Homo sapiens: one gene and its partner. The main gene of each other region encodes a partner of the protein of the gene in region 2 in a complex. Each region holds a gene or a part of one and is shown on either strand. Other genes may lie near its edges.

Region 1 (15,558 bases), on a different chromosome or scaffold from region 2:
TGTGTACACCTAGCGGGGCTCATCCTGGAGTTTACACCCAGCACCTCCAAGAGGTACTGAGCGATGGTCTTTCTCCTGACAATAAAACACCATCATTCAAACCCTAACCAGGTAACTTTTAGTAAAACACATCTAAACCAAGGCCTCTAGGGCTATGGAGGAAAAGAAATGGTCTAGTAAAATCGGTTTGATCTTCTGCTACTTCACAGCAGGAAACCCCTCCTCCAATCAGCGTGATGTGCTTCTCTTTCAGCCACCGGCTCCTTCCTGCCCATAATGGGTAGAGATGACCTTCTGTGGATATAGGGGAGCCTGGCCTCTCAGGGATGCAGAGGGGCCACACTTTGCACCTGGAGGGGAGAGGGAGGCCACACAGGCAGAGCAGGGCAGCACACTGACAGCAGCCTCATGTCCTGCTGGCTTGTTCCTCCAACCTGTTGTCTGCACAGGCAACTCCAGGGCAGGGACCACAAGGCAACACCTACGTCCACCCCTTGCTCCCAATCAAAACGCCATGCTGTGTCTGCAGATCCACTGATATGGAGCATACACTTTGGTGCTTGTCCCAGAGACAGCCAGTGTAGACACCTCTGCCTGCCTCTTTCCTACCAGGGAAAGGAAGCAGAGGGAGTGGGAGGTGGGGAGGGAGCATCTCAGAGGGCAGGGGCCAAGGCAAGCAACACAAGACATACAACCCCAGCCGAGCATGATGGCCCGCGCCTGTGGGCCCAGCTACTCGGGAGACTAAGGTGGAAGGATCACTTGAGCCCAGGAGTTCAAGGCTGTGATGATGCTTTGAGAGGCCGAAGCGGGCAGATCACCTGAGGTCAGGAGTTCAAGACCAGCCTGGCCAACATGGCGAAACCCCATATCTACTAAAAATATAAAAATTAGCCAGGCGTGGTGGCATGCACCTGTAATCCCAGCTACTCAGGAGGCTAAGGTGGGAGGATCGCTTGAACCAGGGAGGAGGAGGTTGTAGTGAACCGAGATCATGCCACTGCACTCCAGCCTGGGCGATAGAGCGACACTCTGTCTCAAAAAAATAAAAGAGTAACTTAATCAGATTTTCTGACCTTGCTTTGGCAAATGACAGGGCTTTTGCTTATCCGGCATTTACTAAAACTAGGTTGGAACAACAATAGCAGTAAGAAATAAAAATACTAGCCCTCGCTTTTTTTTTTTTTTAAAGGGGTCTCCAAATCTACTCCCTTAACTCCTAGGTGCATCACTGTCACCAGGGGTGGGAGAATCTAACAGCTTAACTGGCAGCTCTGAAACCAGATGAGGGCCAGTGATTTCAGTACGCTCTGATGCAGTCCCACACGGGCAAGGCCCGCAAGGCTGGAAGGAAAGAGAAGCAAGGTTTCTCAGCTCCAAGAACAGAGTCCCCATGCCCTCACAGCCCTAGCAGAGAGACATGTGCACCCCAAATCCTAGCTGCCGGCTTTGACTGCAAGGCTCACCCAGCAAAGGCCAGTCCAGAGGGTAAGGGACACGGGAAGGATCTGCAAGTTAATCATCAACAAACTTGCTCACTTGTCCTCAACCCCTCTTTGAGTTTGATCTTATTTCATTTTCACATTTGGAGCTGTAGACTCCACTCCTCACCTGCCAGGTACCAGCCTACCCTCAAGCTCCTCCCAGAAAGCATCAGGCCCCAAAGCGCCCCACCCGTCTGTGAAAAAGGGGCAGTGACAGATGGAGGACCCAGTTCAGGCTCATCCTGAACCAGATCTTCAAAAGAGCTTGGCAGAATCTAGGCAGGAGTTTACACAATTGGAATGGGCACGGTGCACTACTGCATAGCAAGAAGGCCTCAGCCAGGGAGGCTGCTGTCAACCTCTAAGCAAATGTAAGCAAATTTCCACCAGCCCGTTTCATGAATTTCTACCAGCTTCTCCTTTTGCTTGGCTCTCTCTCAGTCCTGCTGGACGTGTGAGGAATGTATATGGCTTTGGGGGGCAAAGGCTGTTAAACACAGACTAAAGCTAATAAGCTCTGGGGACCAGGGGCTTGTTCAGAGTCAGCAATGCTTCCTGCACCCTCACAGCATGGCCCGATTCTGATCCTGTTGTTTCCAGCATGCCCCAGGGGTTCAAAAGCATGACAGCCACATAAGATTGGCTGTGGTCTCACCATGGCTGCTCCCATTGCCTAGGCCCAGGGAGCCAAGAAAGAAAGCAGCTCCCGCCCTCTCAGTGCACAGAGCACTGTGGAGATGGGAGGCTGATGTAAAATGGGTTCTTACTCGGACACTTTTTTTTTTTTTTCTGAGACGGAGTCTCGCTGTCGCCCAGCCTGCAGTGCAGTGGCGCGATCTCGGCTCACTGCAAGCTCTACCTCCTGGGTTCACGCTATTCTCCTGCCTCAGCCTCCCGAGTAGCTGGGACTACAGGCGCCCACCAACACGCCCAGCTAATTTTTTCTATTTTTTAGTAGAGATGGGGTTTCACTGTGTTAGCCAGGATGGTCTCAATCTCCTGACCTCGTGATCCGCCCACCTCGGCCTCCCAAAGTGCTGGGATTACAAGTGTGAGCCACCGTGCCCGGCCACATTTTTTTTTTTAGAAAGGCTGAGACTGGAAGAAATCTCGAGGGCAGCCAGGTGTGGCGGCTCACGCCTGTAATCCCAGCACTTTGGGAGGCCAAGGCGGGCAGATCATGAGGTCAGGAGTTCGAGACCAGCCTGGCCAATATAGTGAAACCCCATCTCTACGAAAAATACAAAAATTAGCCGGGCGTGGTGGCACATGCCCGTAGTCCCAGCTACTCAGGAGGCTGAGGCAGGAGAATCGCTTGAACCCAGGAGGCAGAGGTTGCAGTGAGCTGAGATCGCGCCACTGCACTCCAGCCTGGGTGACAGAGTAAGACTCCGTCAAAAAAAAAAAAAAAAAAAAGGAGAAATCTCAAGGGCAGCATCTGAACCAAGTTGCAGATCTTAGAGAGAAGGATGTGTGACAACACCAGCAGCCCGAGCTGTGGTCACAGCTGTTTACCTCTGCTGATCCGCTGCTTCTCTCCAGACAGGATCCCGGGGGTGTCGATGATGCTGATGCTGTCCAGGACGGGGTTGGGCAGCTGGGCACACATGAACCTACATGAGAGCAAGAGCCAGAAGAGAGGCGTCAAGACACAGTCATCACTGCTCCGGACACAACAAAGGGCTCTCTGTACTCCTTCGCTCCATCTCTGGCTTCCTCTCCAGCAGCGGGGAACTGACAGGTGGTTTTCTATCGTCTTAGTTTCCCGGGGTGGCCGGCAAATCGTATGGACTTTCTCAACTGGGAATGCAACCAGCAGGCTCAAACTGACCCAAATCAGCACTTCCTCACACACTTTTCCCCTAGAGTTTGAGAGGTCAACTTTCAAGCTGCTGACTTGTTAGTGAAAACTGTGCAAGCCTAGGTCACCATTCAGTTCGGAGGGGAAGCAGAAGGTCACGCTGGGGCGCTGAAATCCCATCTCAGAATCCTCCAGCACTTGGCTAAATCTCCACACTGAAGAGAGCTGGCCGCTTCCTACTGCTGCTAGGGCCAGCCCTGCCCTTTCAACCAGCCGCTTGGGTGAGGGAATTGAAATGGACGGCTGGCAAAAGCTGGGGACCACACAGGCTGGTAGACGGTGGGACGGAGAAGCACAGACGCGCCATTCTCTGAAAGTCCGAGCAGGCTGAGGAAGAACAAAGCCGTGGAGAGGCTGGCGACTTGCGGGCCAGGGCTCAGCCACGCATATCTGAGTTTCACACTAAGCTTAGAACAGCCCAGAAAGGCAAGGGGCAGTCTCAGTTGAGAGCAGGGATCCTTCACTGGACGCAGAAAAAGCTCCTTTGAAAAGTTCTCTGAAAGGCCAGGCGTGGTGGCTCACGCCTGTAATCCTAGTACTTTGGGAGGCCAAGGCAGGCAGATCACTTGAGGTCAGGAGTTCACGACCAGCCTGGCCAACATGGTGAAACTCCATCTCTACCCAAAATAGAAAAATTAGCTGGGCATGGTGGCACGCGCCTGTAGTCCCAGCTACTCGGCAGGCTGAGGCAGGAGAATTGCTCGAACCCAGGAGGTGGAGCTTGCAGTGAGCCGAAATTGTGCGCCACTGCACTCCAGCCTGTGCAACAGAGCGAGACTCTGTCTCAAAAAAACAAACAAAAAACTTCTCTGAAAAAGGTAGTGAGAGCAAAGAAAAGACTGACCCATTATCTGTAGGACACAGACTTGAAGCTGCCTTTCCAACAGACGGGAGGACTCTGAGCCGATCAGCTTCTCCCTTTGGCCCCATCCCCCAGTGACCAGGGGCCCACGGGCAGAGGGCAGCTGGCCAGGGCAAGGGGTGCTCTGCAAGGCAGTGGAGCAAGACCAGCTGACCTGCAGGGCGAGCAAAACGTGGGCCTCACTCTCGCCAGTGCCAGTAGCAATGCATGAAGGCCAGTCCTGGCCTTCCTGCTGGGGACAGGAGGCGCTGGAGAGATGATTACAGAATAGAAGGATGGGAAGCAGAATTGGCTCTGGGAAATCACATACATAAAAATGCCTCATAAATGAGCCCAGAAAGTGAGTTAATATCTATAGGACCCAGAAACCAGTTGCTCTGCAGAGCCCAGGGTATATGGCAGAAAACAAGAAAGGGGAAGCAGCAAAGATGCCTCCGATTCCATCTCACCAAGAACGCACAGGTTTCATCTCGCACAAGTGGCAGTCCCAGTTATGCAATAAGTTTTTGCAAGACACTCTTAAGACACCCTGACTGCACCTTGCCTTGGTCTGCTCCAGCTGATTTTATTCTTAGAGCAGCCACATAGGGGGAGAAGGCCGGCAAGTCAAGTTCACGACTCAATGAGTCTCTTCAAGACTCAGCTGGGAGAGGCTGTATCAGCCAGAGAAAAGCCTCCTTTGTTGCACCCTCCTCGCCGGGCTCACTCCCCACACTACACATCCTGGCACAGCTCTGGGCCTCAGCGTGGGCTGATAGGGCCCTTTCGGCAGGGCCATCAGTGATCAGGGATCCTCTGGAGATGAGGTGGCAGCAAGAAGGAAATAAACGTGTGCCACCTCTCAGATCCTGTGGCACCAATGTCATCAAAGCACCGGTCTCGGACAAAGCAATCTCGAATTGCTCTTTTTCGGGTAGAAGCAGCAGAAAGCAGTAACTGGCTGTGCAAAAGCCAGGCAGTCAGTGCTGGCTGACCTAATGGGTGACTTCCACACATCAGCCAGACCCTCTGAACCTCGGTTTCCTGAACCAGTCAGGTGGGGGCTGCCAAGATGATGTCTAAGATCCTTCCAGCTCTGAAACTCTAGGCTTCCAAATTCAGAAAACTGGTCCTGTGCCATGTCTCTCCTTTCAAAAAAGGTGTGCCCTCACAAGGAAAGTGAAGAGGACTCCGCCTCTTCAGGACCCTTAGCCCAAAGGGCTGCACTCAACCTGGCCTTGACAGACAAACATCAACAGCCGTAAAACAGGAGGGCGGGCTGAAATGCCTGGAAGTGAACAGACCCTGCTGAAGGTCAGCTCTGTGCCTGGAGTAGGCCTGGCCACCAGCTTGGCTCTAGGGCAAGCTGCCCTGCACAGCTGGATGGCGTCTGGAAAGGAATGTGACCGTGCAGGGCGGGGACCTGGAAGGCAGGATTCAAAGATTCCTTCAGAGGCTCTTCGCTGGTGCAGAATTATGAAAGGCATGTGGAGTCCGTGAACGTGGGGTGGCAGGGAGGACAGGGTCTGTGAAGTACTTTGGTATGTCGCCTGGGGGTTGGGACGGGCATGTCTCGAGTTTCTCTGGAGAAAAGTGAGCTTGGGCATTGCACTCCTTGAGGGGCGGGAGCACTGTGTTTCATTCACAGCACTGAGACAGGCAGAGTCCTGGAGCTCACTCTCCTCGCGTGCAGAGGCCACTTAACTGGAAAAGTGAGGTCCAAGTGGGTGAAGGAACCTCAGATTCTGTCCCTCAGTGCACAGAAGGGCTTAGGGCCAGAATCTCATTGCAGGGCTCCCACTGCCACCACCTCATCCTGCTTCCTGAAACCCCTCAGGGCAGCACTGACCTCTTGAGAGCTGCCATTGGGAGAAGTGTTCGAACCTCAACTGTCCCCTGCCTCCAAGGGGCTGCCCCAAAGTCAGCAAGCCACAGCCGATCCTCCTCCTCCCTCCTACACAAAACCACCGTCCCAGGGGAGGCAGAGCAGACCCACACCGCACCAGAGAAGGGAATGGCTAAAAGTTTCATTGTGTTTTGCTATTGACACTTAAGAAGACAGGGAGGGGAGGGTTGATTTCCGTGAATTAGGTGCATCCAGCCTGCGGGACGGAGGTGGAGACCAAGAAAAGGAGCGCAGGAATGGCTCAGCTTCCTACTGCGGCCCTGCTGCTGAGGGGAGTGGGGCTGGGATCTGCAGGAGGGCTTGGTGGTTACCCTGGAAGATTCTGGGGAGGACAGAAGCTGGGGGAGCCGACAACGCCCACTCTTAGACCCCCAGTGGGTTTACTCTGGGAAGGGGCAGGGCCCTTGGACCAGGGAGTGGTCACTGAGGGTCTCACTGGGGCCTCGGAGACAAAGGACGGCGGGGCGACAGCCACGGGAGGGTCAGGCTCCGAGTGAGGGGTGTGCCCCGGACGCGCCCCCCGCCCCCTGGAGTGATGGGTGGGTACCTGTTGAGGAAAGCGTTGCCAAACGCGTTGAGCTTGCGGAAGGGGCGCCGCGGGTCCACCACGAGCGCGTTGCCCGGCACCACGCCCTCAGTGGGGCCGTGCATGACGGCGATGAAGGAGTCGGTGGTGGGCTCGGGCCCGATGCGCATCCCCGGGAAGTCCTGCTCGATCAGGTGTCGGATGAAGGTGGTCTTGCCCGTGCTGTACTGCCCCACGAGGAGCACCATAGGCTTGTTGTCGAAGTCAGCGTCCTCCAGCGCGGGCGAGTGGAACTCGTGGAAGCGGTAGTGCTCCTCCAGGGGTAGCAGCTTCTGCGCGTACAGCTGCCGCAGCCCCTCAGCCACCGTCTGGAAGAGCTCCGGCTCCTTCTTGCGGCGGGCATCCTTGCTGACCCAGCTGAACATACTGCCGGACACGGGGCTGGCTGCTGCGGGGCAGAGCGGCGGCTGAGAGCGGGGCGAGGGTGCGGAGCCGAGGCGGGGCCGGCCGGGGCAGGGAATCGGGAGCGACCCACACTGCGCAGGCGCACAGCCCAGCCCGTCGAAGCGCCCTCTGCCGAATGCTGCGCACCCCTCGCGGAGCGGCCTTTATAGGGTCGGTCCCTCAGTGGCGGCTAGCGCCGCCGCGGCGGGGGCAGGGCGGAATTGGGGGCGGTAGGGAGGAGCCCCTCCCAGCCCCGCCCCTCCGACTGGTGCCACGTCTTCCCCTACCCCGCCCCCATTGGCTGATTCCAAATCTCGCGAGGCTGTGGTCCGGGTGCCGTGGCAACCGCACCTGTTTCGCCCCGCCCCTCGTAGGGAGGCTCGCGAAAGTGCTGCGGTTAGGAAGGCGAGGAGCGGGCGTTCGGCGGAGACGGCCTCTGGGCCGCGCGCCTTCCGGCACCGTGGCCCCCCCACACCCCCGCGGGATGGCTCCACGAGACACCCAGTCAGGCACCCTGGTTCCCTGACTACGCGCCGCGCCCGCCGTTCGCCACGTGCGGTCCTCCAGCTGGCTCGGAATCCCCGGAAGCATCGGAGTACCCCCAGGCGGCGGCACCTCCTCCTCTCAGCCCAGCTTCCCAGACACACACTGTCTTTGTCCCCTCATCTTTTATCTGCTTTGGGAGAGGGAGAGACAGGAAAGTGGTAGCAGAGCAAGCTGAGGGAGTAGAGAATCCGGGGCGGGCTGGTGACTGGGGAAAGAAAAATGGGCAGCGAGAGGCCTGACCTCCCCTCAGGCCGACGGGGTGGGAATGGGAGAGGGACGCAAGCGAGGGAGGACATGGGTGACACCGGACTCGCGCGGGAGAAGAGAAGGCTTCCCCACAAAGGCTATAGCTGGGGCAAGGCAGGGAGGGCATGAGGAGGAAGTTGAGGCTCTCTGGCCACTTGCGTATTGGGAAGTGAAATCGGAAATTCCCTATGTGGGGAAGAGGGGAAGTGTGGGGGCAACAATGAAATCTTGTGGGAATTTAGGGGGAAGTTTAAAAACCCAAATACTTCCACTTTCCTCTCGGGGTCACCACCATTTACCATCATTTACTGGGATCTGTGCCCTACCTCCCCTTACCAGTTCCTGGCTGTTCCATGGGGCTCACTCCCCCGCCATCCTCCCCGGCCACACACAGACCCCTTTGGCTGTCCAGGCTGGTGAGAATCTTCAGTGGGTGATGTCAGAGCTTTGGGGACTGATTGTTATGTAACCAGTATCAAGACACCAACCTGTGGTAGCAGGACCCTGGGGGCTCTTAAAGAGATCTGAATTGAACCTGCGACTTTGAAAGCCTCAGGTCCAACTTCCTCGCTTCTGGGAGATGTGGAAGCCTGGAGGGCTAGGGGCCTGTATCAGGGGATAACTTGGGCTGGTAGGCTAAGAGGAAGAGGCAGGAACTCAAATCTGAGAACGGGGGATATCTCAGGGGAACTGAGTGGTGGAATCTAGAGAGGACACGATGGGAGGTTTGTTCGCCTACCGCTTGTAAGATCCCTTCCGAGGGAATAGATAGTTCCCTTGCCCTCCCCTCTTGCTCCCTAACCATTGGAGAGCGGATAAGTAATTCCAACCCTGCCTGCAATCTTACGCCCCTTAGTGCTTTGATTTGATTCTTTTCATCATAGTAAAGCACACAAGCTACTGCCCCCCCCCTTTTTTTTTTTTTTTTTTTTTTTTGGTGTTATTCTCAAAAGAAGATACTGAGGCTCCTAGGCAGAGCTGTCACCAGAGGCTGCATGCCAATTGGTGACGAGGAGCCTCCGGCGGGCCTAGTCCAGACTTCCCGGGTCAGCCTTAGAAGCCACAGTGTTTGCCTCCTACTCAGCACTGTTAGGGATCCACCCCGGAGATGCAGTTTCTGGGTTGATCTAGGGAAGGGCCCAGGGCTGAGGATCCTGAATGAAGTAGTTGTTCAGTCGTCTCAATGAGGCTGCTCCAAACTGGCGCCCCGGCAGCATTCTCATTGACGCGCCATGGTTTTCAAATCTCCCCAGAGCCCTGTGTGCTGGGAAAACCCAGCCCTAGAAAACTGAAAACAACAAAATGTTCCTGGGTTATTTATAAACAAAACCCAGACCCTGTCGTTATGTATGGCCACTTGACTTTCTCCAAAGATCTTAAAGGACTGAAAGAAGGGATCTCTGTCACCCTGGTGAGGCCCACGTGACCAGCAATTAGTTTCCCCCAATTTCATGGAGTTGGCACCCAGCTTCCAGGCAGCTTCCTTATCTTGTCATGCCCCACACCGAAAATGTCCTAATTTTTTTTTCTTTTGTGTTTTCTGAGTAGGGCAGTTTGTTTGGTGGGAAAGTTGTATAAAATGTGAATGCACCCTTTCACTTTTGGTTTCTCCGCTGTTTCACTTTCTGCCTGTCTGCCTGAGCCCATGGCAGATTGATGGAGGGTTCAAGTATTTTTCTTTTATCTCAGAAACTGTGCCATCCCCCACTCCCAGTGTTTTATTCTTCAGTTAATAAATCCATTCCCTGCAAACCCAGGGCCTTGAGGTACCCCCTAGCTCTCCTCAGAAACGCCCTCATCCAGCAGAAAGGGGCCTCACCTCCCCTCTAAGTGGTCTGCTTGGTCCTGTCATGGCCTGATCTAGGAAAACATCTACAAGGTCCCTAGAGACAACTTAAAAAAAAAAGGCCAGGTGCAGTAGCTCATGTCTGTAATCCCAGCACTTTGGGAGGCCGATGCAAGCAGATCACCTGAGATCAAGACCACCCTGGCCAATATCACAAAACCCCGTCTCTACTAAAAATACAAAAATTAGCCAGGTATGGTGGCGTGTGCCTGTAATCCCAGCTACTGAGGAGGCTGAGGCAGGAGAATCGCTTGAACCCGTGAGGTGGAGGTTGCAGTGAGCCAAGATCGCACCACTGCATTCTAACCTGGGCAACAGAAGGAGACTCCATCTCAAAAAAAAAAAAAAAAAGAGAGGTGCCTTTTCCGCTTGCGGTGCCGTGCAGTGAGGAGCTCTTATCTGTGCTCTTGGCTATGCCATCCAAGGGCCAGCTGCAGTCCGTGCAATCCACTGCAAACATGGCAGTGGCCTCATCAAGGTGAATGGATGGCCCCTGGAGATGATGGAGCCGAGCGCTGCAATTCAAGCTGCTGGAACTAGTTCCTAGTTCTGCCTCTGGGCAAGGAGCAATTTGCTGACATGCACACGCATGTTTGTGTGAAGGGTGGTGGTCATGTGACCCAGATTTATGCTATCAACATCAGTCCATCTCCAAAGCCTTAGTGGCCTATTACCGGAAATAAATGGATGAGGCTTCCAAAAGGACCAGAGGCATCCTCATCCAGCATGACTGGACCCTGTCAGTAGCTGACCCCCGTTGCTGCAAATCCAAAAACGTTGGAGGCCCTGGTACCTATGCTTGCTACCAGAAATCGTACCAATAAGCCCATCACAGGGACCAGGATTCACCTATATAATAAACTATGTTTGAGAGTGTTTTTTTTTTTTTGAGACAGAGTCTCACTCTGTGTCACCCAAGCTGGAGTGCAATGGTGCGATCTCAGCTCACTGCAACCTCCACCTCCTGGGTTCAAGTGATTATCCTGCCTTAGCCTCCCAAGTAGGTGGGATTACAGGCGCCTGCCACCATGCCTGGCTAATTTTTTGTATTTTTAGTAGAGACTACTAAAAATACATGTTGGTCAGGCTGGTCTCGAACCCCTGACCTCAAGTAATACACCCACCTCAGCCTCCCAAAATGCTGGGATTACAGGCATGAGCCACCGCACCCAGTCGATATTTTTTTTTTAAGGAGTTTTTCTCCAAATATGGCAGAAAAATCGAGCTGAGAAAAACCAAAACATAGGTTTCTCCCTGGGATGAGGAGTGGTTCATTCTTTCCACTGACAGAGTTTGCATATCAGCACAGATTTTTGTTCTCACAGTCATGAGATTTGGGCAACAAATCAGTTTTCCCGACACAAGGTGAGGAACTGAGGAGGACTGTTCTTTTGAATGCCGGGTCTCCCACACTGGCAAGAAGAGTGTCCTCTCCACACCATGAGGCCTTTCTCTTGCAGCAGCTGTGGCCCTTGGGTGATGGCTCTGGGGAGATTGCTGGGCCCCAGAGGGCTCTGAAGGCATCTGGCAGCCAGAACATGGCCCAATTTGGAGGTGACCGTGTCAGAATCTTAGCTGCTTTCAAATTCCAGTGAGAAAGAGCCTGAGGCCCGGGATGTCCAGTGACTGCTCGAAGTAGCCCAGACTGAATGAGAATCTGGGCCTTCGGAGTCTTTTTTTTTTGAGAGGGAGTCTCCCTCTGTTGCCCAGGCTGGAGTGCAGTGGCGTGATCTTGGCTCACTGCAACCTCCACCTCCCGGGTTCAAGTGATTCTCCTGCCTCAGCCTCCCGAGTAGCTGGGACTACAGGCGTGTACCACCATGCCCGTCGGCTAATTTTTTCTATTTTTAGTAGAGATGGGGTTTCACCATGTTAGCCAGGATGGTCTTGATCTCCTGACCTTGTGATCTGCCTGCCTCGGCCTCCCAGAGTGCTGGAATTACAAGTGTGAGCCACCACGCCTGGCCAGGGCCTTCTGAATCTTAACACTGCCCTTTCCACACTCCAGCCACTTGAAGTTGCAAGGACGGGCAGGTGGAAAAGCAGAGAAAGAGGGTTTCAAGAGCCTCTTCCCCAGATGCAGGCTGAAGTGAATCTCTGCCCTGAAGCTCACCAGCCCTTCCTAGCCCCTTTGCTGCTCTGCAGCCTGGGGGACAGGCTTACACATTTATCAGGATGATGTACACATATAACTGCACAGTGCTTTGCAGAGCTGAGACTTATAGGTCTCTGAGCACTTTCAGTAAAAGCTCTAGTTCACCTGCCAGTTTTCTGTGTGTGTGTCTCAGTCCCTGCAGCTTCTGGCCCTGCCTTGCTGGGGCTGATGAGGCTGGGGCTGCCGCTGAGTGCAGGGTGCAGGGTTTGCCCTAAACTTATTGGAGGGCCCAGGCCTTTGCCTGACTCCACAGGAAATGGCTTATTATTTGGCACATAAGCAATCGCCTTCTGTGGTGACAACATTAGGGGGTCCCTTGTGGGGTGCTGGGGTCCCCCTTGCCCTACACTAATGAAATGGAGAGTGTAACCCCATTGTCCCCCAGCCTCAGCAGCCTGAGAGTACAAGTGAGGTGCATGGTCTTAGCCTCCCTTGTATGAGTGCAGACTGCTGCCGTGCACACGGCCCCTCTGCATTTCCGGGGGCTCTGAAGTGTGTCTCGTGTGTGCAAGAACGAGCCTGCCCAAGTTCTGCTCCAGCTGCCTCTCCCTTGCCTTGGCCTTGCCCTGCTGTGGCCCTGAGCCTCACCATGGGCTCACAGGCTGGGGGGCTGGAGGGTAATTCTGTCCCCAACTCTGTGTCACACTCAGCCACCAGGGCACAGAGCCCAGCCCATCTTCAACAAGCCCAGCTCCTCACTCCCACACCTCAGGAGTCAAACATCGTGCCCAAGGCCACCCTCCTGTCCCCTCTGCTGGGCGAACACCTCCCTCCTCCATCCCCCCAAATTAAAGTCTCTTTGTAGGTCACTTGGGGTGGTACATGGTGGTCCCCCAGCCCGCCTGTCTGCCGACACTCAGTCTCCCTCCCCGTCCTGTGGCCCAGCTGCCACATTCCTCTCACCTGCAGCTTCTTTACTGTGCCCTTAAGTACAGAACATGGTGACGCTCCATCTGCAAGGAGACTGGAGACCAGAACCCTCCCCTGAGGCCCACGTCTGCCCAGGCACCATGCTTGCTCCTAGAGGTACATGTTGGGGTGTCCCCGAGGGCAGGAATATAGTGGGACCCTCTCAGAGGTGGGGTCAGGCCTCCGTCTCCTGCTCACCCAACCTGGTCCCCTGCCCCTTGGCTCCATGTCCTGTCCCAGAAACACCTCTCTTGCCCTTTGGTCATCATTAAGCAGAATTTCAGGATGTCTGCAAGATCCCCCACCCCTGGTGTACATATCCAGTGTAATGCTGGGAATGCGGATCTGGTGACTTACTCCATGACATGCGGTGTTAGATGGTGCAGTCCACTGTACAAAGGGAGATAATCCCAGTGGGCCCCCCAGCTCACTGAGCCCTCTGAAAGCAGAGCTGGCTGGACAGTGGCTTACACCTGTGATCCCAGCACTTTAGGAGACTGAGGGGGTGGGTCACTTGAGCCCAGGAGTTCAAGACTAGCCTGGGTAACATGGCAAAATCCCATCTCTACCCAAAATACAAAATATTAGCTGGGTGTGGTGGCATGCACCTGTAGTCCCGGCTACTCAGGAGGCTGAGGTGGGAGGATCACCTGAGCCAGGGAGGTTGAGGCTGCTTCGAGCCATGATTGTGCTACTGCACTCCAGCCTGGGGGACACCATGTGGAAAGGAATGTGGGTGACCTCTAGGAGCTGAGAGGGGCCCCAGCAGACCACCAGCAAGGAAACGGGGACCTCAGTCCTATGGATGCAAGGAACCGGATTCTGCCAACAAGAATGAGCTTGGAGACAGATTCCTTCCCCTGCCTCCCGGTGATAGGGCAGCCTGGCTGCCACCTTCCTTCAGCATCTGACACTCTGAGAACAGAACTCAGTCATGCTGGGCCCAGACTTCCAACCTACAGAACCAGGAGCTCATAAATGGGGGCGGTTCTAAACCACAAAGTTTGTGGCACTTTGTTGTGTAGCAGTAGAAGGTAGCTACTGCAATAGATTTGTCTTTTTGTCGATCCACGAGTCCCTTCACAGGCAACACCTGGCAGCCACTAGACATGGGACCAGAGAAGAAAATGGAAGGACCCAAAAGTGACCATGGAGTACCAATCACTGGGATAGATTTCAGAAGGGAATACAGCATCACCTGGCTACACACACACACATACACACACACACCCCACACAGTGATTCTCAGCTGGGTGTGATTTTGCTCCCCCGGGGACATTCTTGGTATGATTATTTTGGGGATTGTTGCTGGCATCTACTAGGCAGAGGACAAGGCTGCTGCTGACCATCCTACAACACACAGGGCACTCCCACAGCAGAGAATTACCCTGCCCGAAATGCCAATAGGGCAGAAGCTGAGGCATCCTGATGAGCGCGCGCACGCCACACGCACGTGGCTGGCCATTATTGAGAAGCAGTATAGCATAAAGGCCAAGTGCATGGGCTTTGGAGCAGACTGTTCAGGATCAAATCCTACAGACCATATGATCTTTAGCAAGGCACTCAAGAGATAACAAAAGCACCCGCCTCCTAGGATGACATGAGTTCATGTGCACAGAGTGCGTAGAACAAGTGAGTCAGCTTACTCAGTGATTACAGGAAGTGTCTACGGGGTTATCCCTGCATCGTAGGAACTGGGGCAATTTTTATTTACTTTTCTATGTTGTCCAAATGTATATAATGGATGTACTTGACTTGTTTAATTGGGGGGAAATGGAGAGAAAAAGATGAGAAACACTCTACAAAACAACTGATCTAGACTCTTCAAAAATATCAAGGTCTTGAAAAACAAAGAAAGGCTGAGGATGGTTCTGGATTAAAGAAGACTGAGGAGAGCTGACACCAGATGTGAAGCGTGGTCCTGGCAGACTGGGACAATCAGAGACATTTGAAAGTGGACTGTACGTTAGATAATAGCATTGCATCACTGTCATCAGGCCTGAATTTGGTACTTGTCTTGTGGTTGCGTAAGAAATGTCATTTTTCTTAGGAGATACATGTTGAAATATTTAAGGGTAAAGGGCTAGGACTTATGTAACTTACTCTCCCGTGGTTCAGAAAATATGTGTGTGTGTATGTGTGTATGTGGGTGCCAGACAGAGAGAGAGAGAGAAAAGGGAGCAAATATTATTGCAGGCCGGGTATGGTGGCTCATGCCTGTAATCCCAGCACTTTGGGAGGCCGAGGCGGGCAGATCACCTGAGGTCGGGAGTTCGAGAACACCCTGACCAACATGGAGAAACCCCGTCTCTACTAAAAATACAAAAATTAGCCAGGTGTGGTGGCGCATGCCTGTAATCCCAGCTACTCGGGAGGCTGAGGCAGGAGAATTGCTTGAACCTGGGAGGCGGAGGTTGCAGTGAGCGCTATTGCACTCCAGCCTGGGCAATAAGAGAGAAACTCCGTCTCAAAAAATATATATATATGTGTATATATATATATATAAATATGTATATATATGTATATATATATATAAATATGTGTATATATATGTATATATATATAAATATGTGTATATATATATATGTATATATATATAAATATGTGTATATATATGTATATATATAAATATGTGTATATATATGTATATATATAAATATGTGTATATATATGTATATATATAAATATGTGTATATATATATAATTGCAAAGTGTTAACTGTCAATGAATCAAAATAAACAGTATATGGATGTTGTTCGTACTTTTCTTGCAACTTTTCTGAAGCTGTCATCAT
Region 2 (14,395 bases):
CCTTACTCTGTGCCCAGGTTGGAGTGCAGTGGTGCTATCTCGGCTCACTGTAACCTCCGCCTCCCGGGTTCAAGCAATTCTCATGTGTCAGCCTCCTGAGTAGCTGGGATTACAAGTGTCCACCACCATGTCCAGTTAATTTTTTTAGTAGAGATGGGGATTCACCATGTTGGCCAGGCTGGTCTTGAACTCCTGGCCTCAAGTGATCCGCCCACCCTGGCCTCCCAAAGTGTTGGGATTACAGGCACAAACGACCGCTCCCGGCCTTTTTTTTTTTTTTTTTTTGAGACAGTGTCGCTCTCATTCTGTCACCCATTCTGTAATACAGTGGCATGATCATAGCTCACTGCAGCCAGAACTCCTGAGCTCAAGCAATCCTCCTGCCTCAGTCTCCAGAATAGCTGGGACCACAGGTGTTCCCCACACCCAGCTTTTTTTGAGACGGAGTCTCGCGCTGTCACCCAGGCTGGAGTACAGTGGCACGATCTCGGCTCACTGCAACCTCCACCTCCTGGGTTCAGGCAATTCTCATGCCTCAGCCTCCCAAGTAGCTAGGATTACAGGCACCATCACCATGCCCTGCCCAGCTAATTTTTTTTTTTTTTGAGACTGAGTCTTGCTCTGTCGCCCAGGCTGGAGTGCAGTGGCACCATCTCGGCTCACTGCAAGCTCCACCTCCCAGGTTCACGCCATTCTCCTGCCTCAGCCTCCCGAGTAGCTGGGACTACAGGCACCTGCCATCACGCCGGGCTAATTTTTTTGTATTTTTAGTAGAGGTGGGGTCTCACCGTGTTAGCCAGGATGGTCTTGATCTCCTGACCTCGTGATCCGCCCACCTCGGCCTCCCAAAGTGCTGGGATTACAGGCATGAGCTACCGCGCCCGGCCCATGCCCAGCTAATTTTTTGTATTTTTAGTAGAGATGGGGTTTCACCATGTTGGCTGGGCTGGTCTCGAACTCCTGACCTCATGATTTGCCTGCCTCAGCCTCCCAAAGTGCTAGGATTACAGGTGTGAGCCACCGTGCCTGGACTTTTTTTTTTTTTTTTTTTTTAGAGATAGGATATCGGTCAGGCGTGATGGCTCATGCCTGTAATTCCAGCACTTTGGGAGGCCGAGGCTGGCAGATCGTTTGAGCTCATGTGTTTGAGACCAGCCTGGGCAACATGGCAAAACTCCATCTCTACTAAAAAAAAAAAAATACAAAAATTAGCTGGGCACGATGACGTCCACCTGTAGTCCCAGCTACTCGGGAGGCTGAGGTGGGAGGATGACTTGAGCCCGAGAGGTTGCAGTGAGCCGAAATTGTATCACTGCACTCCAGTCTGGGCGACAGAGTCAGACCTTGTCTCAAAAAAAAAAAAAAAAAAGAAGAAAAAAAGAGATGGGGGTCTCACTACATCCATTAGGCTGGTCTTGAACTCCTGGTCCTAAGCAATCCTCCCACCTCAGCCTCCCAAAGTGTTGGAATTACAGACCATACCCAAACTCTTTTCTTGGTTCTTTCCACCTCTTCCTGCCTCTCTTGACAGTACAGTATTGCTCAGGAGAACCCAGGGTAGCAGCAGGTGTACGGAAGCCCTGTCTGCATGACCAGGCACCCTGCAGCAAGCACGTGCACTTGGGAACACAGACCATGAATAAGGGCACCCTTTACAGCCTAACTAGGCCATTTCTTTTTGGCCCTACAGGGGATTTGGAGAAGGAGAAACAAAGACTCCAAAATATCTTTGCCACAGGGAAGGACATGGAGGAACGGAAAAGAAAGGCCCCTCCTGCACGACAGAAGGCTCCAGCCCCTGAGCTAGACCGATTTGAAGAGCGTAAGACTCCGACGGACCAGTCATGCTGGGGGTGGGGGTAATGTGAGGAGGGGGCCCAGAATTGGATGGAGCAGTCAGGGGATCCCTGAGGGCCAAGGGCCAACAAGTGAGAAACACTATTTATTTATTTATTTATTTATTTTGAGACAGTCTTGCTCTTATTGCCCAGGCTAGAGTGCAGTGGCGTGATCTGGGCTCACTGCAGCCTCCACTTCCCAGGTTCAAGCAATCCCTCCTGCCTCAGCCACCTGAGTAGCTGGGATTACCAGCGCCCGCCACCATGCCTGGCTAATTTTTGTATTTTTAGTAGACACGGGGTTTCACCATGTTGGTCAGGCTGGTCTCGAACTCCTGACCTCGTGATCCACCTGCCTTGGCCTCCCAAAGTGCTGGGATTATAGGCGTGAGCCACCGCGCCCGGCCTAGAAACACTATTTGACAATAGAACCACTTCCTCTCCTCAAGAGAGGCAACCCGCTGCCTGCATCCCTCATGGGAACCTGACAGCCCTCTCCTCTGTCCAGTGGTGAAGGAAATCCAGGAGAGGAAAGAATTCCTGGCTGACATGGAGGCCCTGGGACAGGGCAAACAGTACCGAGGAATCATCCTTGCTGAAATCTCCCAGGTAGGAGAAACAACCAGGAAAGTGGGGAGGGGAAGGGCCCAGCGCCAAGTGCGAATGGAAATACAGGGTCTGCTGTGGCAGGGTTCAGGGGTCAGGCTCTAGCTCACTGCTGTGACAGCTCCTCAGGTTCCTAGCCCTGATACACCTGCTTTCCCTGATGCCCTTTGCAGAAACTCCGGGAAATGGAAGACATTGACCACAGAAGGAGTGAGGAACTTAGGAAGGGTCTTGCCACCACTTAATCTGTCTCCAGAGACGGGCAGGGTAGCCCAAGCTCGACCACTGGAGTCCACTCCTCTGCCAGGCAGGGCCATCCTCAGGCCAGCCCATCCTACCAGCCTTCTGCCACGTCAGGTGGTGGCATAGCACTGCCCTGCAGTACCCCAAGGCATACTCAGCAGCCTAGCCCCTGCCCCGGAATGCAGATGGAGCCTCTGAGACTCACAGCCCCGTCCGCAGAGAAGCAAAGCCCGAGCATCCCTACTAGGACATGTGTCTAAAGGTATCCACTGGGCCTGCTTCCCACCACTTCTGACCTGTGGCCTGTTCATTTAGTTTTCTGAATTCAGGAATGAATATGATTCCTTTCTTCCTGTTTTAGGATTTACTTATTTGATTTCTTACCGCCTTAGGCAAGTATTCAACCACAATGATTAACTGGCCAATAAAACATATTTAACGTGGGTCATTACAAGCACCATTTTGTTTTCAGAGGGATAAGCTTATTTGTTCAAGGCATTAGACTTTGTCAAGCCCAGATGGTTTCTAGCTACCTGTTTGCATATTTCAAGTGGCAACGGGAACCAACCTCTTGGGCACCCCATGGCTGGCTGCTGTGGCGGGTGCTGAATTCCACTCTGTTAATGATCTCAATAAACCTCTGCAACGGTTCATTATCCCTCTGTGAAAACTAAGTCTCAACAAGATACCACAACCAAGGGCATTTACCTGGCAAGCAGTGCATTCAGGATTAAAAGTTGGCTTTAGCTTTATGTCTTTCCACTATACCCATGGCCACAGAAAGAAACATGAAAAGGTGGGAGCGACCTAGAGCCCTGGCCTGGGAGTTCCAATCCCTGCATGTGCCGCGTGACCTTTCTTGGGCAAAACCCACCAGCTCCGTGCTTGTGCATCTGCGAGGCCCTGCTGGGAAGGAGTCACCTGACACCTTGTCCTGTACACAGCACATCTGTCCCCCTCCCCTCTGGCTCCTGACACCCACGATCCCTGCCTTCTCCGGTATTCTGTCATTTGCTTGTCCCACTAAATCACCAAAATATTTTGGAAATATCAACCTTGTCTCGGGCACCTGGAGGGAGTCCCATAATCCCATCAGGTCACATGACCCAAGTTTCGGTTTGCAGAATAAAACGGCCCTGTAAATGGTGAGGCCCCAATCAAGGGCCGGCTCAGGGACATCCCATGGAAAGCCTCTGTGTCCACACACCCTCAAGAACCTGAGGGCAGAGGGTGCAATCTAATGGGAACAGTTGTCCTCGACCTCGAAGGCCCCATCATGTGGTCAGGAGGCAGCAAACCAGAGAACCCCCCAGGACAAATCCAGTCCACCCTGGACACACAGTATCAGCCAACCCTTGATTGAAATTCAGGCTAGTGGCCGGGCGTGGTGGCTCACGCCTGTAATCCCAGCACTTTGGGAGGCCAAGGTGGGTGGATCACAAGGTCAGGAGATCGAGACCATCCTGGTTAACACGGTGAAACCCCGTCTCTACTAAAAATACAAAAAATTAGCCAGGCGTCGTAGCATGCGCCTGTAGTCCCAGCTGCTCAGGAGGCCGAGGCAGGAGGATGGCGTGAACCCAGGAGGCGGAGCTTGCAGTGAGCTGAGATCGCGCCACTGCACTCCAGCCTGGGCGACAGAGCGAGACTCTGTCTCAAAAAAAAAAAAAAAAAATTCAGGCTAGCTTTCAGCATTTACAAATTACACACACATAAAATCTGGATTTCTAGCTTCTTATGACAAAGGATCTGGCAACACCGGGCCCACATTCAGCCCCACAGGCCACAGGTGACTTGACTTGCCTCCAGTTCACCCCTGCCCCTGCCAGCTTTGTCTCCTGACACCGAAACAGCCCGTCAGAGCTGTCACTCGGGTTCATGCGTGTTACCTGTCTGGCCCTGGAAAGGCCCTGGAGTTGGTGGCGCCAGCTCCAGGTCAACAGGCATGTTTAGAAGGAGCCTGCCAGGGGCTGCATGGCCGAGGAGCCACCTCTCCCTGCAGAGGAAAGGGATCCTGCCCAGTGGCAGGCGGTGAGGGCAGAGATCCCTCTTGGAGGATGGCCCCAACATGGCCTCTGGGCGACCAGAGATGTTCAGCCACCAGGTGTGGCAGAGGCAGGTGGGAAGGCAAACAAGGCTGCCGCTGTGGCCCGAGGCTGCAGGGCACTGGCAGTTGAGGTTGTCTGTTTATTGGTGAGGAAACTCCTCGAGAGTTAATACAGTGTAATCTTTTCCCAGAGGTGTGTAGAGGGAAGGGGGCCTAGAGGCATCCCAGAGATAGCTTATAGCAACAGTGCTTTGACCAAGAGCTGCTGGGCACATTTCCTGCAGAAAAGGTGGCGGTCCCCATCACTCCTCCTCTCCCATAGCCATCCCAGAGGGGTGAGTAGCCATCAGGCCTTCGGTGGGAGGGAGTCAGGGAAAGAACAGACAACAGAGCAGACAGACCAGTGATGACCATGGGCGGGAGCGAGCCTCTTCCCTGGACCGGGGTGGCAGAGGAAAGCCTAAGTGAGGGGTCAGACTATAAACGTTAAGGAACCGAGATGAGCACCTGCTTCAAGTGCACCCTTCCTACCTGACAACCAGGGACCAGAACTGCAGCCTGGGGACAGCACTGGGAGCAGCTAACAGAGCACTCACCTGCCCCAGCATGGCCGTCGCAGCCCTGGTCCTGGCAAGGGAGGCTCCCTGTGGAGTAAGGGGAGACGAGGGAAGCCGCTCCTGGAACTGTGAGGGAGAGAGGGATGGATTTGCCCGTCAGGCCCATTCACGTCTGACAGTACAGGCCACTCAGTCATAAACTCAAACTTAACTGAAGACTTCAGAAACAGAGTTCCTGAGTGAGGGAAACTGAGATCCAAGGGCGCCTGCACAGGACAGGAAGACAGAGACTCAGAGCCAGGGATGGGGCAGGAAGAAGCCAGTGTGGCCCAGCGCCACTTGCTGGCCTGCCTGGAAGAGCAGAACCCTGGAGGCGGAGACCCAGCCCAGAGCTCATGGCAGGGGCTGGGCAGGGTGAGGGGCGGAAGTGCTCAGCAGGCGCCCCTCCCTGGACCCTGGGACCCTATTTGCCCCTTGGGTCCGTCACAGCATCCGCAGTCATCAGAATCAGGTTGGGCAGGGCTGAATCACCGCTGCCTGGGGCTCGGAGAAGAAACAAGAGATTCTTTGGCCCAGAGCAGTCAGAGGTCCCTGAGGAGGAAGAGGCCATCACCCAGAGGATCCCTCCCCTTAGTCATCTTCCTCCTGACTGATCTGAGGGGAGCAGGGCGCCCCCTTCAAACAGAGCACAGCCCAGGAGCTGCTCCAGGAGGGGGCAGTCCCCAACTGGCTTCTCGTGCTGTTAGCTCTTGTCTCTGGGGGACTTGCTCTTGGCATCACGTTTGTTTCCTAGCAGTTTCAACATCTTCATGGTCTTGAACTTCCCCTTCTTCTTGCCCTCAGGTTCAGCCTCCCTCTGGAACTCTGCAGCACAGAGAGGGGAGCACTTAATAAAGTGGAGAAGAGGGGTACATCCAGGGCAGGCTAGACCCAGTGACACAGGCCTGGGCATGGGCAGCAGGGCTCAGCCCAGCCCCACCACTTCCTGTGTGGAGCCTGGGAGGGACAAGACACTCACCTTTCCCAGCCTCTGTCTCTTCACCTAGAGGATGGGGCCCATCCTCCCCCTCCCCACCTCCAGTGTTTGGGGAAAGATCAAGATGGTCAGCACATGTAAGAGCTCTGCTGAATCCGGGAATTCTTTTTTTTTTTGAGACTGAGTCGCTTTGTCGCCCAGGCTGGAGTGCAATGACGCGATCTTGGCCCACTGCAACCTCCGCCTCCCGGGTTCAGGCGATTCTCCTGCCTCAGCCTCCCGAGTAGCTGGGACTACAGGCAGGTGCCACCACGCCCCGGCTAATTTTTGTATTTTTAGTAGAGATGGGGTTTCACTGTTAGCCAGAATGCTCTCGATCTCCTGACCTCGTGATCCCCCCCGCCTCAGCCTCCCAAACTGCTAGGATTACAGGCATGAGCCACCACACTCGGCCTAGAATCCAGGAATTCTGAAGCATGGCATCCATTTATCTTTTTCTTTTTCTTTTTTTTGAGACAGAGTCTCTGTCGCCCAGGCTGGAGTGCAATGGTGCGGTCTCAGCTCACTGCAAACTCTGCCTCCTGGTTCAAGAAATTCTCCTGCCTTAGCCTCCCAAGTAGCTGAGATTACAGAAGTGTGCCACCACACCCAGCTAATTTTTGTATTTTTAGTAGAGACGGGGTTACACCATGTTGGGCCAGGCTGATCTCAAACTTCTGACCTCAGGCGATGAGCCCGCCTCAGCCTCCTAAAGTGCTGGGATTACAGGCGTGAGCCACCGTGCCTGGCCCCACTTATCTTTTTTTTTTTTTTTTTTTTTTTTGAGACGGAGACTTGTGCTGTCGCCCAGGCTGGAATGCAGTGGCACGATCTCGGCTCACTGCAACCTCTGCCACCTGGGTTCAGGCGATTCTTCTGCCTCAGCCTCCCGAGTAGCTGGGATTACACGCAAGCGCTGCCATGCGCGGCTAATTTTTGTATTTTTAGTAGAGACAGGGTTTCACCATGCTGGCCAGGCTGGTCTCGAACACCTGACCTCGTGATCTGCCGGCCTCGGCCTCCCAAAGTGCTGGCATTACAGGCGTGAGCCACCGCGCCTGGCCCCCATTTATCTTTAAAAGGCTGGATTCACCCAGGCTGGTGCCCACAGCTCTGTTACTTACAACACAAACGCTGTCAGAGCAAGAGAAACCTTCAAAATCATCTGTCTGAGCCCCTAATTTTATAGACAAGGAAAATGTAGGCCTTTGAAATTGACTAATACCAACTGAGCCCTTTGTAGGGCCAGGGCCCTCAGCTAAGTTTTACACATTATCTCAGTAATCCCAGCACACACCTGTGAGGGGGTGCCATTTTCACCCGCATTCTGCAGATATGAAGAATGAGACCAGAGTGGTAGAGTGGCCAGCTCAAAGTCACCCAGCTCATAAGTGCCAGAGCTGGGACTAGAACTCAAGTAGTCTGACTTGGCCTGAGTCAAGACCTAACCACAAGGCCACAAAGTGAGGTACTGGTAAAACCAAGACCAAAACCCAAATCCTGGCCAGGAACACTGGCTCACGCCTGTAATCCCAGCATTTTGGGAGGCCGAGGTGGGCAGATCGCTTGAGGCCAGGAGTTCGAGACCAGCCTGGTCAACATGATGAAACCCCGTTTCTACTAAAAATACAAAAAAATTAGCCAGGGCCGGGCGCAGTGGCTCACACCTATAATCCCAGCACTTTGGGAGGCCGAGGCGAGCGGATCACTTGAGGTCAGGAGTTCAAGACTAGCCTGGCCAACATGGCGAAACCCCATCTCTACTAAAAGTACAAAAATTAGCCGGGTGTGGTGGCAGCTAATCCCAGCTACTGAGGAAGCTGAAGCAGAATTGCTTGAACTTGGGAGGCGGAGGTTGAGTGAGCTGAGATCGTACCACTGCACTCCAGCCTGGGTGACAAAAGCAAGACTCTGTCTCAAAAAAAAAAAAAAAAAAATTAGCTGGGTGTGATGGCATGCGCCTGTAGTCCCAGCAACTCAGGAGGCTGAGACAGGAGAATTGCTTGAACCTAGGAGGCAGAGATTGCAGTAAGCCAAAATCACACCACTGCACTCCAGCCTAAACAACAGAGTGGGACTCTGTCTCAAAAAAAAAAAAAAGAAAAGAAAAAAAATCCTTTGACTTACAGTCCAGTACTTTTTTTTTTTTTTTTTTTGAGACTGAGTCTCGCTCTGTCACCCAGGCTGGAGTGCACTGGCGTGATCTCGGCTCACTGCAAGCTCCACCTCCCGGGTTCACACCATTCTCCTGCCCCAGCCTCCCGAGTAGCTGGGACTACAAGCTCTCGCCACCACGCCTGACTAATTTCTTGTATTTTTAGTAGAGACGGGGTTTCACCGTGTTAGCCCTGATGGTCTTGATCTCCTGTCCAGTACTCTTTTAACTGTTTCAAGCACCACTTGGTCCCCAGGAAGCACTGCTATTTGGGCCCACGGACTCCAACAAAACCAGCTGCAGATCTCAAGGGGGAATGCACAGCTGAGGGCAAATCCACCCTGGGAAGATGCCTCCCATATACCACAGTCGTCTCTGTAGGCATCAGGGCATCCCACGGCTACCCTCCAAGCCTAAGCCACAGCCTTCCTGGCTGTATGCTGGCCTCTCTTGCTACACACAGCCCTCTCTGCACAACAGAGGCTGCGGAGTTTGTGCACAGCCATCCTGGTAGTGCCCACTCCAACCCTCCCTTCAACCAGTCCCTCCCTTCCAACCCCAATGCCGAAGTTCAAGTGCTCACCAGCCTCATCCCCAGCAAGGGCCTCACCTTTCTTCTTGATCATGGCTTCCAACATCTTGTCTTCCTCTTCCTCCCTGAAATAAGCAGCAGCAGTTAAGCTGGGCGTGGTGGCTCACACCTGTAATCCCAGCACTTTGGGAGGCCAAGGTGGGTGGATCACCTGAAGTCAGGAGTTCGAGATCAGCCTAGCCAACATGGTGAAACCCCATCTCTACTAAAAATACAAAAAGTAGCTGGGTGTGGTGGCTCATGCCTGTAATCCCAGCTACTCGGGAGGCAGAGGTAGGAGAATCGCTTGAACCTGGGAGACAGAGGTTGTAGTGAGCCGAGGTTATGCCATTGCACTCCAGCCTGGGCAACAAGAGTGAAACGCTGTCTCAAAAAAAAAAAAAAAAAAAAAAGCAGCGGCAGCTGAGAGTCCTACGGGAGGAAGGAGCAGATGCCCTCTCTGTCCACACAGGGCTGAGCAACGGTGCACTGGGATCGCTGGTAGGAGGGCAGGGCTGGCCTGGCCTGAGGCGTGGACTGTGTCTTTGGCTCTCCAGGGAGCTGCCCCACCCATGAGGCCCAGAGCCTGACCTGCTCTGGCCCTGCCCCCAGGACCCCCCACCCCTGGCCATGTCACCTCTGCCGGTCCTCATCCAGGCAGTTGATGATAGCGTTGCGCTGCTCAATGAGGGTCACAAGCTCCTGCATCAGCACCTTCTCCCGGGCCCGGTCCTCCTCCGTCCAGTCCTTTTCTGCCCAGGGAGAAAAGTTAGGGGGCATGAGTGGTAGGAAAGCCCTCTTCCTCCCCAGGCCACCAGGAGCCACTGCCTAAGTGCGGCAGGCCAGCCCCATGCTAAATACCATGCAAGAAACTAAGCGCAGAAAGGAAGGGCCCCGATAGGTGGGGCTTACAAGTTCTTTTTTTTTTGTTTTTTTTTTTGAGACGGAGTCTCACTCTGTCGCCCAGGCTGGAGTGCAGTGGCGTGATCTTGGCTCACTGCAGGCTCCGCCTCCCGGGTTCACGCCATTCTCCTGCCTCAGCCTCCCGAGTAGCTGGGACTACAGGCACCTGCCACCACGCTCAGCTAATTTTTTATATTTTTAGTAGAGACAGGGTTTCACCATGTTGGCCAGGATGGTCTCGATCTCCTGACCTCGTGATCCACCCGTCTCAGCCTCCCAAAGTGCTGGGATTACAGGCGTGAGCCACCGCGCCCGGCCAGGGCCTACAAGTTCTTAGGGAAAAGAAAGTTGTGACAGAAGAGACCAAGGACACCAGGCTGCCTACCAAAGAGCCCTGCAAGGGGCCCCAGCAGGGCCAGCACAGCACCTACTGCAAGAACAGGGCAGCACCAAGGGTCTCATGCTCATGTTCATTCATCCATTCAACAAATGTTCACTAGGTGGCTTCTGGCGGGAGGCAAGATTCAGGAGGGACAGAGTGGGGCAGGGGCGAGGAGACAACAGGGAACCCCAGGGCTCCTCCAGCAGGAGAAGCAACACAACCCAAGTGACATACTGGGACATTTATCCAAGGCTGTGGAGGAAGGTAGACTAGAGGGGATGCTGGGGGCAGGGAGCCCAGCAGGAGGCTCCCCTGAAGCTGGGCACACCTGCTGCCCCTCCTGCCTCCTTTCCTCTCAAGGCCCCAGCCAACCCACAGGACCACCCCCAGGGGCCCACTGGGGCCCTAGTATTTCCCCCTCCCCCAGCCTGCAGGCTCCAGGGATGAGTGCCCACACTTGGCCTTCCCTCCACAACATCTACCGCCACAGGCTTCCCTGGCTTCAAATAAATATCCTAGGCCGGGCCCGGTGGCTCACTCCTGTAATCCCAGCACTTTGGGAGGCCGAGGCAGGTGGATCACCAGAGGTCAGGAGTTCGAGACCAGCCTGGCCAAATGGTGAAACCTCGTCTCTACTAAAAATACAAAAATTAGCGGGGTGTGGTGGCACACACCTGAAATCCCAGCTACTAGGGAGGCTGAGGCAGGAGAATTGCTTGAACCTGGGAGGTGGAGGTTGCAGTGAGCTCAGATCACGCCACTGCACTCCAGCCTGGGCAACAGAGTGAGACTCTGTCTCAAAAAAAAAAAAAAAAAAGTAAATATCCTTAGCCAAGCGTGGTGGTGGGCGCCTGTAATCCCAGCTACTGGGGAGGCTGAGGCAGGAAAATCGCTTGAACCTGGGAGGCGGAGGTTGCAGTGAGCTGAGTTCACGCCATTGCACTTCAGCCTGGATGTCACAGTGACACTCCATCTCAAAAAAATAATAGGCCGGGTGCGGTGGCTCACGCCTGTAATCCCAGCACTTTGGGAGGCCGAGGTGGGCGGATCACGAGGTCAGGAGATCAAGACCATCCTGGCTAACACGATGAAACCTTGTCTCTACTAAAAATACAAAAATTAGCCGGGTGTGGTGGCGGGCGCCTGTAGTCCCAGCTACACGGGAGGCTGAGGCAGGAGAATGGCGTAAACCCAGGAGGCGGAGCGTGCAGTAAGCCAAGATCGTGCCACTGCACTCCAGCCTAGGCGACAGAGCGAGACTCTGACTCAAAAAAATAAAATAAAATAAAATAATAATAATAACAAATAGGGCCAGGGCTTGGCGCGGTGGCTCACGCCTGTAATCCTAGCACTTTGGGAGGCGGAGGCGGGTGGATCACGAGGTCAGGAGATCGAGACCATCCTGGCTAACATGGTGAAACCCCGTCTCTACTAAAAATACAAACAATTAGCCGGGCGGGGTGGCAGGTGCCTGTAGTCCCAGCTACTAGGGAGGCTGAGGCAGGAGAATGGTGTCAACCTGGGGAGGCGGAGCTTGCAGTGAGCCGAGATTGTGCCACTGCCCTCCAGCCTGGGCAACAGAGTGAGACTCCATCTCAAAAAATAAAATAAAAATAAATAAATAAATAAAATAAAATAAATAAATAAATAGAGCCAGGCGCAGTGGCTCATGCCTGTAATCCCAGCACTTTGGGAGGCTAAGGTGGGTGGATCACAAGGTCAGGAGATCGAGACCATCCTGGCTAACATGGTGAAACCTGGTCTCTACTAAAAACACAAAAAATTAGCCGGGCGTGGTGGCAGGCGCCTGTAGTCCCAGTTACTTGGGAGGCTCAGGCAGGAAAATGGCGTGAACCCGGGAGGCAGAGCTTGCAGTGAGCCGAGATCGCGCCACTGCACTCCAGCCTGGGCGACAGAGTGAGACTCTGTCTCAAAAAAAAAATAATAATAATAAATAAATAAATACCCCCCCCCAAAATAAATAAATAAATATCCTGAAGCCCCCTCAGCCACTGCCCCTTTCCCCTATGGCCTCACCTTGCCAAAATTGAGGAGCAGGTGGCCCAACCTGGTTCTGGGGACAGAGCAGGGCCTCCAAATCACCACCCAAGTTTGAATCCCACTTTGCCATTTTCCATATCTGGGGCCTGGGTAAGTTATGTCCCCAGTCTACACGTGGGGAAACTGAGACTCAGGGACATGAAATCTTTGACCAGTGTCACACAGTGAAGGTGGAGCTGGTATTTGAACCTGGCAGCCTGATGCCCCCAAGCAATGGCCCTCATGGTGTACTGTACTCGGAGCCTCATACACCAGCTTCACCTTCCAAAAGCAACATCCGGGACAGGCTGACAAGCCCGGGACGCACAGCCACCACACGGGGGCTGGAAAAGCCACAGTAAGCCCTGGGGCCGGGCTAGCCAGGGAGGCAGAGGAGCCGTGCCCGCTCTGGCCACAGGGCGCCGCTGTGGCTCTGAGTGGTGGCCACGCCCCAGCCTCCTGCAGAGTTGGGAGTGACTCACACAAGGCAGTGGAAGCCTGGGACATTCTGTGGCTTCCCCTGGGACACTCCAGCCTCCCAAATTCCCCAGTCAGTAGACAGTTCCCCTGCCACCATCCCCACAGTCTGGAGGGGCTGTGTGTGCAGGGACAGCCCCAGATCAGAGACATGGATGGAAGCCCAGCCCCGTCACCAACAGCCAAGTCCCTTGACCTCTCTGGCCCTCCACTTCCCATCTGTCAAGATGGCCCTTGCCCAGGGCTGGCACCATGCCTGAGCCATAAGAAAGTGGTCAAAAGCTTTGGCTCCCAACTCTGGAATCTCCATAGTCCTGGGGTCTCTGCCTGCAGCTGCGGTTCACTGCATTCCACGGTCACAGGGCGTGTGAGGAGCCCTCCTCACCAAACCCCAACTCGGCCACATGGTAACCATCAGCCATCAGCCCTTCAGAGGGTACAGAGTCCACGTCCACTGTCTCCTGGTCCCAAGAACACCCGAGGACGTGGGGACCTTCATTCCCATCTTACACCTGAAGCCACTGAGGCTCAGTGAGGCTAAGAATCCTGCCCAAGGTCACACAGCAAGTTAGTGGCAGAAGAAGGAACAGTCTGACCCACGCACAAAACAGGCTGGGCTGGTCCTGGGCCTGATCTTCATTCACTGAGAGCCTGTCATCCCTGGTCCCTCGGACGTCCACACCCTACACTGTCTGTGCGGTTCCTTCTCCTACCACAGCCCCAGCCAGCTTACTGCCTGTTACAGTCTCTCCCATCCTTGGGGGTGACCCAGACAGCCCTGCCCCGCACCTCCTCCTCTGGCCCTGTCCCCAGTCTGCCTGTGCATCCTACTGGGGTTTTGTCTGCCCGCTCCCCCACTCCTCCGTGTCACCAGGCCCCAGGGCAGGTGCCAGGGGAGTGCCAGTGGCTGCACTCACCTGGCTTATTGAGGAGGCACCGGAGCTCATACTCGACATCAGCCTGGCGCTGCTCCAGGTTCTGCTGCTTGAAGCTAGGGGTGGGAATAAGGTGACTCTTAACAATTCTGCCCGAGCCCCGGCTGCCCTGCCCTGCGCTGTTACTGATGAGGGAAGAGGGTAAGGGTTCTCCATTCTAAGCTCTACGGATTCCAGGGAGGGATGCCCCAGGCGGGGGGACTCACACATAGATGAGCTCGGACTCTCGCCGCACCAGTAGGTGCTTCTCGTGGATGAGCTTGAACCAGTCCACCAGCATGTCATCCTCACGGCCCTCTGGAAGCCAGATACCCACTGAGGCCAGGGCTGGCTGCCATGCCTGGCTCAGTTCCCCGGGGAATAGAGGCTCCTGCCCCCAGCCCCACCCAGCAGGCCCTCCCAGCCGCTCCCGCACCATTCAGGCCGCCACGCAGCTTCTCCTCCAGCAGCACCCCACGGTGCTCCAGGGCATCCAGCCGGCGCTCAATGGTATCCATCTCTCCATGGATGTCCTCCTCAGGGATGTACTGGTCAGCCTGGACCTGCCCAACAGTGCCTGGTCACCTGACGGCCTGCCTGGTTGCTGCCAGGAGCCTTGCCCTCTTCTCTGGCCAGCATTGGCCACT

What was found.
Region 1: the proteins of MICALL1 (region 2) and EHD1 are in contact, whole or in part, in an NMR structure (PDB 2KSP), measured with the Homo sapiens proteins. Residues at the interface, in NP_203744.1 of Homo sapiens: Lys422, Tyr424, Asn425, Pro426, Phe427, Glu428, Glu429; in NP_001269373.1 of Homo sapiens: Gly464, Ala467, Lys468, Met471, Asn478, Leu481, Gly482, Trp485, Lys486, Lys492, Asp493, Gly494.

The regions. Positions count from the first base shown.
Region 1 is NC_000011.10:64,871,422-64,886,979, forward strand, and holds the start of EHD1 (EH domain-containing protein 1), read right to left. Parts: upstream 7,201-15,558; 5' UTR 7,067-7,200; coding exon of another isoform or gene 7,044-7,066; coding exon 6,640-7,043; intron 3,098-6,639; coding exon 3,000-3,097; intron 1-2,999. UniProt on the Homo sapiens protein: ATP- and membrane-binding protein that controls membrane reorganization/tubulation upon ATP hydrolysis. In vitro causes vesiculation of endocytic membranes. Acts in early endocytic membrane fusion and membrane trafficking of recycling endosomes.
Region 2 is NC_000022.11:37,932,469-37,946,863, reverse strand, and holds the end of MICALL1 (MICAL-like protein 1), read right to left. Parts: intron 14,312-14,395; coding exon 14,185-14,311; intron 14,067-14,184; coding exon 13,976-14,066; intron 13,826-13,975; coding exon 13,752-13,825; intron 9,785-13,751; coding exon 9,670-9,784; intron 9,119-9,669; coding exon 9,072-9,118; coding exon of another isoform or gene 9,045-9,071; intron 6,156-9,044; coding exon 6,034-6,155; 3' UTR 4,042-6,033; downstream 1-4,041. Other genes in the region: C22orf23 (UPF0193 protein EVG1), read left to right, coding at 1,691-1,822, 2,347-2,549. UniProt on the Homo sapiens protein: Lipid-binding protein with higher affinity for phosphatidic acid, a lipid enriched in recycling endosome membranes. On endosome membranes, acts as a downstream effector of Rab proteins recruiting cytosolic proteins to regulate membrane tubulation.